2 separate regions of the Homo sapiens genome follow, and region 1 is reported to be linked to region 2. The links are microRNA targets in miRTarBase. Many come from high-throughput screens and were not tested one by one. Region 2 holds a microRNA gene; the other region holds the end of a gene's coding sequence.
Evidence for each region. Region 2 holds the annotated microRNA hsa-miR-3192-5p (UCUGGGAGGUUGUAGCAGUGGAA, at 2,664-2,686, opposite strand). A microRNA usually pairs through its seed, bases 2 to 8, with sites in the 3' UTR of a target mRNA and lowers its output. Matches are read on the target gene's strand: a 7mer-m8 pairs with bases 2 to 8, a 7mer-A1 pairs with bases 2 to 7 and ends in A, and an 8mer does both.

Region 1: miRTarBase lists GLUL as a target of hsa-miR-3192-5p. Seed matches in the 3' UTR shown: 7mer-m8 at 3,326-3,332 and 8mer at 181-188.

Annotation. Positions count from the first base shown.
Region 1 is chr1:182,381,009-182,385,071 of GRCh38, forward strand. GLUL (glutamate-ammonia ligase) reads right to left here. Exons shown (of 7, transcript NM_001033044.4): 7 at 1-3,715. The coding sequence ends at 3,397. Among named protein-coding and RNA genes, the nearest start is that of GLUL, 8.8 kb to the right of the region's middle. RefSeq lists a silencer at 166-460.
Region 2 is chr20:18,469,241-18,473,309 of GRCh38, reverse strand. MIR3192 (microRNA 3192) reads right to left here and starts at 2,695; the gene lies at 2,619-2,695. It overlaps POLR3F (RNA polymerase III subunit F), which reads right to left. Exons shown (of 9, transcript NM_006466.4): 3 at 401-468.

The DNA of each region.
Region 1 (4,063 bases), not on the chromosome of region 2:
GGAGGTGGAGGAGTTCAAGACCAGTTCAAGACCTCACTTTGGGAGATCAGGAGTTCAAGACCAGCCTGGCCAACATGGTGAAACCCCATCTGTACTAAAAATACAAAAATTAGCTGAGCATGGTGGTGCACACCTGTAGTCTCAGCTACTTGGGAGGCTGAGGCAGGAGAATCGCTTGAATCTGGGAGGCAGAAGTTGCAGTGAGCCAAGATTGCGCCACACTATACTCCAGCCTGGGTGAGAGTCAGACCCCGTCTCAAAAACAACAAAAGGCCCTAGACAACACCCATCCATGGAATTCTTTCAAATTCCCTATAGCTTGTGCTATCAGTTGTTATTTAGTACCTGGCAAGATGATATTAGGGGAACTCATATTTAAGGAGTTCATGGAGACCTCCTTTTGTAAATACTGGCCTGACTCCTTAAGGTTGAAAGCTTGGTCATTATTCTGTTTAATCTATCACTGATAAAAGTTATCACATAACCCATTGTCTGCAAATGAACTATAAAAAACACCTTAGAAATACAAGGGGATTGCACTGTGACCTGTAGGTCAAAGCTAATTCTAGGTGAGAGGGTGAAGAAACAAATATGCTGGTTGTTTTCACCTAAATTCTGATCCTATGAATTTAAAATTCCTTCTCATGCAATCATTTTGTCATGGAATTGATTACAATGAACAAAATCCAAAGTGCTCAGGTCACTGCCTCTTCAGTTTAGTGCTTACACTGTAGGATACACCATCCAAGAGGCTGTAAGGGTGGCCAAGCAAAGGGAAGACAACTTCAGTTGGGGGGGTGGAAGCACAGATTCAATGGAAATAAGGGTATACATCATTTAACAACAAAATCAAGAAAATGCTAAGGATGAAACAGGGTACTCAACAATCATGCTGAAACAGGCATAAACTAGGACCACGCCAGCAAGCTAATAGGTAGATGACTCTACTTTGAATATTAAATCATATTACGAGCCAACTTTCTTAAGAAAAACCACGGATATCTAGGATTACTTGACTAGTGTAAAATACACAGTTGCCTGAAGAACTTATCTCTAAAAACTATCACAGGCCCCAGCTACCTCGCACTGGTAAGAGTATACTGCCTTTTAAAAACAATCACTATTGCCCACATTATTAGTAGTATTAATGCTATTAATAATATTGCACTCCAATGTGTCCAATAATTGCTTTTTGCTAGGTATATGCACAGCATCATGGGAGCCGGAGGGAGCTTTTACCCAACCTCATGAGGAATGAACGAAGGTAGGAATTGGCCAAGATAAGGTGGAAGAACTCCCAGATACACGGACCAAGATAAGAGCAAGGGGCAAGGGCACAGGTGACAACACAGAGCTTTTGAGAATCACAATCGGTCCACTGGTCTTCCTGCAAGGCAAGATACACCCAAGGATGAGCCCATGCCTAGGGCATAGCCAGCCTTGGAAGGCTTCAACCAGGGTAGCAGGGTAGCTAATATTTGTTTCTTATCACTGAGAGCAGAGAATAGAAATCGTAAAGCCAGTTAATCTTACATTATGTTAGGCTATTGTATTAGGCTAGGAATGGTCAAAACAATGTTATGGTAAGCCAAAACCAAACTCAGGGGAGCAAAGGAAGGGGGAGGAGTGGGGCTTGTACCCTGCTACAAACCTCTAGGCTAGGAAATGCCAAGATTGTGTGTAACTAAGTCTAGGTGAAAAACTTAATCCCTTAAGTCCCAAATACCCAACTTAGAGAGGTACAGGAAACGGCTGGTCAGCAACATCACTCCAGTGTTTTAAAAACTCAGAGTACATAAACTTGAGCTTATTTTGCCTGTTTTAGGAAATAAAGAAATATAATGGCACATAGGGATTTGAAAGAATCACAAACACATCAGAGAGATCTTATGTTAGGCTGATTTATAAGTGCTGCTTTGGGCAGTTACACAGTTTGTTTACAATGAGGAGTTATTTGACTTTGAACATACTGTACATGGCAATTAGAAGTTGTCATGGCAAAAGAAAACCACAGCTGGCCTGCCACAGCCAACACAAGAACCAGAAAATGGTAGATGAAATGAAGGAATAAAGGTGGGGTTTATTCCTTATTATAAAAGAAAAAAAATAATTCTTCAGCAGTCTTAACAAAGACATCAAGATACAAAATTACAAGTGTTTTGACTCCAGCCCTGTCCCCATCTCCTCCAAGAGCAGAGGTAGGAGACAGTTGAAGCAAACAAGCAATTCTGTAAAAATTACCTAGAAACCCTACAAATTTGATTAAAATCTAAACTTCTATAATTTTGCTTTTTAAAAAATTTAATATCAAAAGGCCTGCTTTAGTGACATGCTATTCCTACCAGAAAATAACCCCAATACCCCCTCTGTCAGTAACATGCTCAAGTTGACCAGCCAACTCTTATCTCTAAACCTATGTGGACAAGTGTGTCTTTTAAACCAAAGCCACGGAGATCAAGTGACTGCTAGTAACGTGTTGTCTGTTAACTAATCCAGTGCCCACCTTCTCCAGAGGGTGGGCAGGGCAGAAACCCAAAAGGGTCTTGAGGGCCTAATCCCAGATCACCATCTAAGAACCACTTCCCTTGCTCTCTACTCAAAATGAGATGCTTTATTTCTAATCCGACTATTTGTCTCAAATTTGGTGCCCCGTGACCTGGATGGTTTTTTCCTTTAGCAAAACACACATAATCCACAAAACCATACATATAGTTTTTTGTCTTTACATTTAAATATAAAAATACTATTCTGCTTTGTGTGATAAATCAAGGACCAAGCAGTAAGAACCTTTTCTTCTTTCAAGGTAGGGATATCCATCAGTTTATACTAAGCTTCGTGTTCAGAGCAGGGCATTTAGTCCCAAGCCAGGCTAGTCCCACAAGCAAGAGACCAAAGCCATTCTCTCTGATTCCCAACCCCTACCTTCTCTCCTAATTCCCACTTTTAATAGAAAAGTTGGTTATAACTTTTTAAGAAAAGTTTCCACCACGAGGGCAAGTCCTAACCTAACCAGAGTACGTCAGGTCTTCCCCTTTCAGCTACCTGGAAGAAGAGACCCCCTTCTGCAAACGTGCTCTGTCCGGATAGCTACGCCTATTGGACAGGTGCACCCCATTAAATGGAAGCAGTGGTTATGTCTCCCCACCCTCCTCCCCACTAATGCACTAAAAAGCTTCAGTGATAGGGAAAAAAAGGAGGGTAGGTGTGAAGAAATTAATAACTTGACCCCTCTATCCCAGCCAAACAAAGAAAGCAAGATTAACTGGGCACATGGAATGAAAAAAACGACCTTGATATTCCACCCTTTGAGTTACAATCGGGACAACTGGGAGAGGGGGAAGAGTTGGAGTGGGATGAAGAACTAGGAGGGGCTCAACAGCTGGAGGTCTAGTCCACTTAATTTTTGTACTGGAAGGGCTCATCGCCGGTTTCATTGAGAAGACACGTGCGGATGAGGGCTTCTGTCACCGAAAAGGGGTCGCAGTTGGCAGAGGGGCGACGATCTTCAAAGTAACCCTTCTTCTCCTGGCCAACAGTCCGGGGAATGCGTATGCTGGCGCTACGATTGGCTACACCAGCAGAAAAGTCGTTGATGTTGGAGGTTTCATGGAATCCAGTTAGACGTCGGGCATTGTCCAGGCCTCCCTTGGGATCATAGGCACGGATGTGGTACTGGTGCCGCTTGCTTAGTTTCTCAATGGCCTCCTCGATGTACCTAGAGTAAACAGAAAAGATGGCAGTCCAACCTTGTCTCCAGGTATGGAGCCAAGAATGAAGTGCACCAAAATATGATACCAGTAGAACAAATACTTCATGAGGGCAGTGGCTGCATCTTCTTACCTGTGTGTCTCAGTGGTGAGAACAGTGCCCGACAAGCAGTACAAAGTTACTGTTTGTTGAAAAGACTAATCATTTGAAACTTTCTCCCCCTCATAAGCATTAAGCTTATCCACATGCCTGTATTGTTACTAATTTAGTTCTAAAAGATTTTCAAATGCATGAATTTGTCAACTTTTCCCTGTCACCATGACATATGTCACAAATATATATATCGATATATATT
Region 2 (4,069 bases):
GCAGACAAGGTCACCACAGTGACATATTTACCAAAAGAAAGGCTTACCTTAAATAGAATGAGACAGAGCTGTGTGTACCAACATGAAAAGATGTCCAAGATACAGTAAGTGAAAAAAACAAATTGCAAAACAGAATGGATAGCATGATTCCATTTTTGTTAAAAAAAAAAGAGAAAGATTATATATAAATATATAATCATCTATGTGTATTTATATATAGCTAGAAGAAAGGATATACACTAAATTATTAAGAGCAGTTACCTCTGGGAAATGGAATATATCATAGGAGGCAGGGATGATACACAGGACAGGTTTATGTAATTTTGTATTAGCTTTATTCCCAACACATACGTTTGCAAATAATAAACATTTTCTTAAAATTAAAAAAACAAGTACTTACCCAGCATTCTGAGAGTCCTTTATTCTATATAAAAGGCCCGTATTGCTCCTTAAGAGATCCAACTGACCCTAGTTTTTAAGACAGTAGAAAACAGGAGTCAGTTATTTTGGAGATATGTTAAATCAAATGACAAATGTTGATGCATTCTTTAACATTCTTAATTTTTCAAAACCTGCTCTTTAATCTCAAAATTTTTCAAAATATCACTAACAATTTCCTGTAGGCTAGATCTTGGCTTGGTTATATGATCAATGCATAAAGAATTTTTAAAAAGCAGCTTGAGAATAACAATCTATATTAAAAATCAATATAAATCCAAATTACATATATAAAATAAAAATATAATTTATATAAATAAAAAGTTGAAATAAAGACTAAATAGGCATATTCTGTTGCACAGTGAAAAATAAAATTTATAAAGTTAATGGCTGGGCGTGGTGGCTCACACCTGTAATCTCAGCACTTTGGGAGGTCAAGGCAGGTGGTCCATTTGAGGTCAAGAGTTTGAGACCAGCCTGGCTAACATGGCGAAAACCTGTCTCTACTAAAAATACAAAAATTAGCCAGGTGCAGTGGCATGCGCCTGTAGTCCCGGCTACATGGAAGGCTGAGCTGAGATCGCACCACTGCACTCCAGCCTGGGCAACAGAGCAAGACTCCATCTTGAAAAGCAAAAAACAAACAAAACAAAAAACAAAAAAAGTTAACAGTGACATTTACTGAAGTCAGCCAATGAATAAAAGGACTAGAGTAGTATTGTTTTTATATAGCAAATCAAAAGTAAAATAAAGTATGTCTGTCATGCTCCTGAATTTCCTTGGGTCCGAACTTAAGAGAACCCAGATAATTATACCACTAGGCTCTGGAAGTACTAGAAAGCCACAGTTGAGAGGGACGCTATTCCCTTGTTTATTTATGTATTTATTTAGAGACAGAGTCTCACTCTGTCACCCAGGCTGGTGTGCCGTGGCACAATCTCGGCTCACTGCAACCTCTGCCTCCCGGGTTCATGCGATTCTCGTGCCTCAGCCTCCCAAGTAGCTAGCATTACAGGTGTATGCCACCATGCCACGCTGATATTTGTATTTTAGTAGAGATAGGGTTAGGCCATGTTGGCCAGGCTGATCTTGAACTCCTGGCCTCTAGTGATCCGCCTACCTCGGCCTCCCAAAGTGCTGGGATTACTGGCAGGAGCCACTGTGCCCAGCCCATTCCCTTGTTTTAAAACAGACACTCATGACTTGGAAATGGATTTACATACTGAATGAACAGTGACACACTCCTGTTCCCTGACCCCACGAAGTGGCAAAGTAGGACTACAAGGCCCAATCCAGAGGCTCTGGTCATTTATCCAGCTTATGAATATTTACTGAATACTTGTACTGTGCCAGGTGTTATGATAGGTGTTTGGGGGAACAACATTAATTCTAAAAGGGAAACACACAGGTGACTTCAATACCCATCTGGTTGGCATTAAGATAGAGGTAAGTAAAGCCACCCTGAACTCCCAGATTGGGTACTCGGAGAACAGGCTGCGGCCCAACCTGGGGGGGTTCAGTGACTTCCTGGAGACAATGGCAGAGTTGAGTCCTAATGCGTTAGTCATCTGTAAAGAATAAGAAGAACCTTCTAAGCAGGGGAACAACATGAGTCCTGTGGCACGAAACAGCATGATGTGGCCAGAAACCAAAAACAATCTGCTCCTCCTGAAACCTAACTTTTGAAGTAGAGTGGTGGAGATGAGGCTGGTGAACAATGCAGGGACTCAGTGTGGGAAACCCAGGAGTTTGAACTTGAATCTCCAGTATAAACAAATTGTAGGTGGTAGAGTGCCTTGGTCAGACCTGCATTTAAGACAGATCAGGGGCCAGGCTCGGTGGCTCATGACTGTAATCCCAAATCAGGCTGGCTTCTCTGAGACAGATGGAGTCATGGAAACCAGTTAAGATGCTACTGCAGCTGTCCAGGTAAAAGCCATGAGCCTGAACATGATGCAGTACCAGGGATAGAAATGGAGGGGGTGTGGACAGCAAATTTAAGAACTGTTTTTAAGAGCTAAAATCAGAAACATTACATGATTTATTAATAATCACTCCCTTTCTTAATATCCTTTGATAGCTCTACTACTGCCTGCATACAACCTATAGCCAATAGGACTCGCAGTGGGTGGGTGGTGGCAGAGGTGGTAAAAGAGAGGTGCTGAAGATGATTTTCAGTCAGAAGGAAAGAGCTGAGAGGGCGATCAGAGGAAGAAAAGAACTTTTTCCACTGCTACAACCTCCCAGAATCCCTTCCTCTGTCTTTCCTAGAGCTGAAGACCTTCACCACAGTGAAATAACTAGAAATCAGCAACATTCCTTTGTCCTTGGGCTAGAACAGGGGTGAGCAATCTGCTCCACAGCTTGTTTTTATAACCAAAGTTTTGTTGGAACATGGCTGTAGCCATTTGTTTATGTATCATCATCCATGGCTGCTTCTTGCTAAAATGACAGTGTAGTTGTGACAGAAATCATATGGCTCACAAAGCCTAAAACATATACTGTCTGGCACTTTATAGAAAAAGTTTGCCAACTCCTGAGCTAGAAAATTGATGGGAAAGGTTTAAGAAAAGATTCATCGGACCCCAAATCTCCACATCCAGAGCCCTTGGAAATCCAACAAGGCTAGTAGACTTAAAAAACAAATCAGTCATTCAGATGAGGCCTTGGCGTAGAACTCTTTAACCTAACTGCTACTAAAGCCAAACTGAAATGCTCTTAGGAAAAGGATGTTTTGGTGATGAGGGAAAGTAAGGGAGATTTAGAGCATCGGCACCACTTGGTGGGTTTTTAGACAGTCTTGCTTGTTTGTTTCTGGACAGATGGAGAATGGCTTCACTGATAAATTCCATTGCAATGTCACTGGGGGCTAAGGCTGCACTTCCTCCCCAAAGCCCAACATTCTTCATTCAACTGGACTCATTCTTGCTTCCTGAAATGCTCAGAGTGACAATGTGGAGAATGAAACCCTGATGACTGGGCTCTGTGACAACTCATAGGAAAATCGGGGGGTGGAATATTTTATGGGAAATGGCCCAACACCAGCAGTAGGAAGCAAACAGAAGGTGAGAACAGACTAGACCTATGTATGGCAGTGGCAATTAATAAATACAACAGTTATACCATAATACATTTATTTCATTTGTCTTATAACGCATAATTATTTCTTCTTTTTTCAATTCAGGTAGTTTGAGCTGTTTCCTGGTTTAGAGTCTTATCAGTCAAACCTAACACACTTTCTCGTTTTATGACTGCTGTATTAGGGTTCTCCAGAGAAAAAGAACCAATAGGATACACCTCCCTCTTGAAAGATTCATCAGAAGCTATTTGCTCTGTGATTATGGAGGCTGAGGAGTCCCATCATCTGCCCTCTGCAAGCTGGAGACCCAGGAAAGCTGGTGTTGCAGATCAAAGGGCTGAGAGCAGAGAGCTGATGGTGTAGATACCAGTCCAAGTCTGAAGGTCTGAGAACCAGGAGTGCTGAGGGCACAAGATTCATAGCCCAGCTCAAGATTGAATTCAAAGAGTGAATTCAATCTTCCTCTGCCACTTTGTTCTATTTAGGCCCTGAATGGATTGGATGATGCTCACCCAACTGGACCCATATCTACTTTACTCCGTTCACCAATTC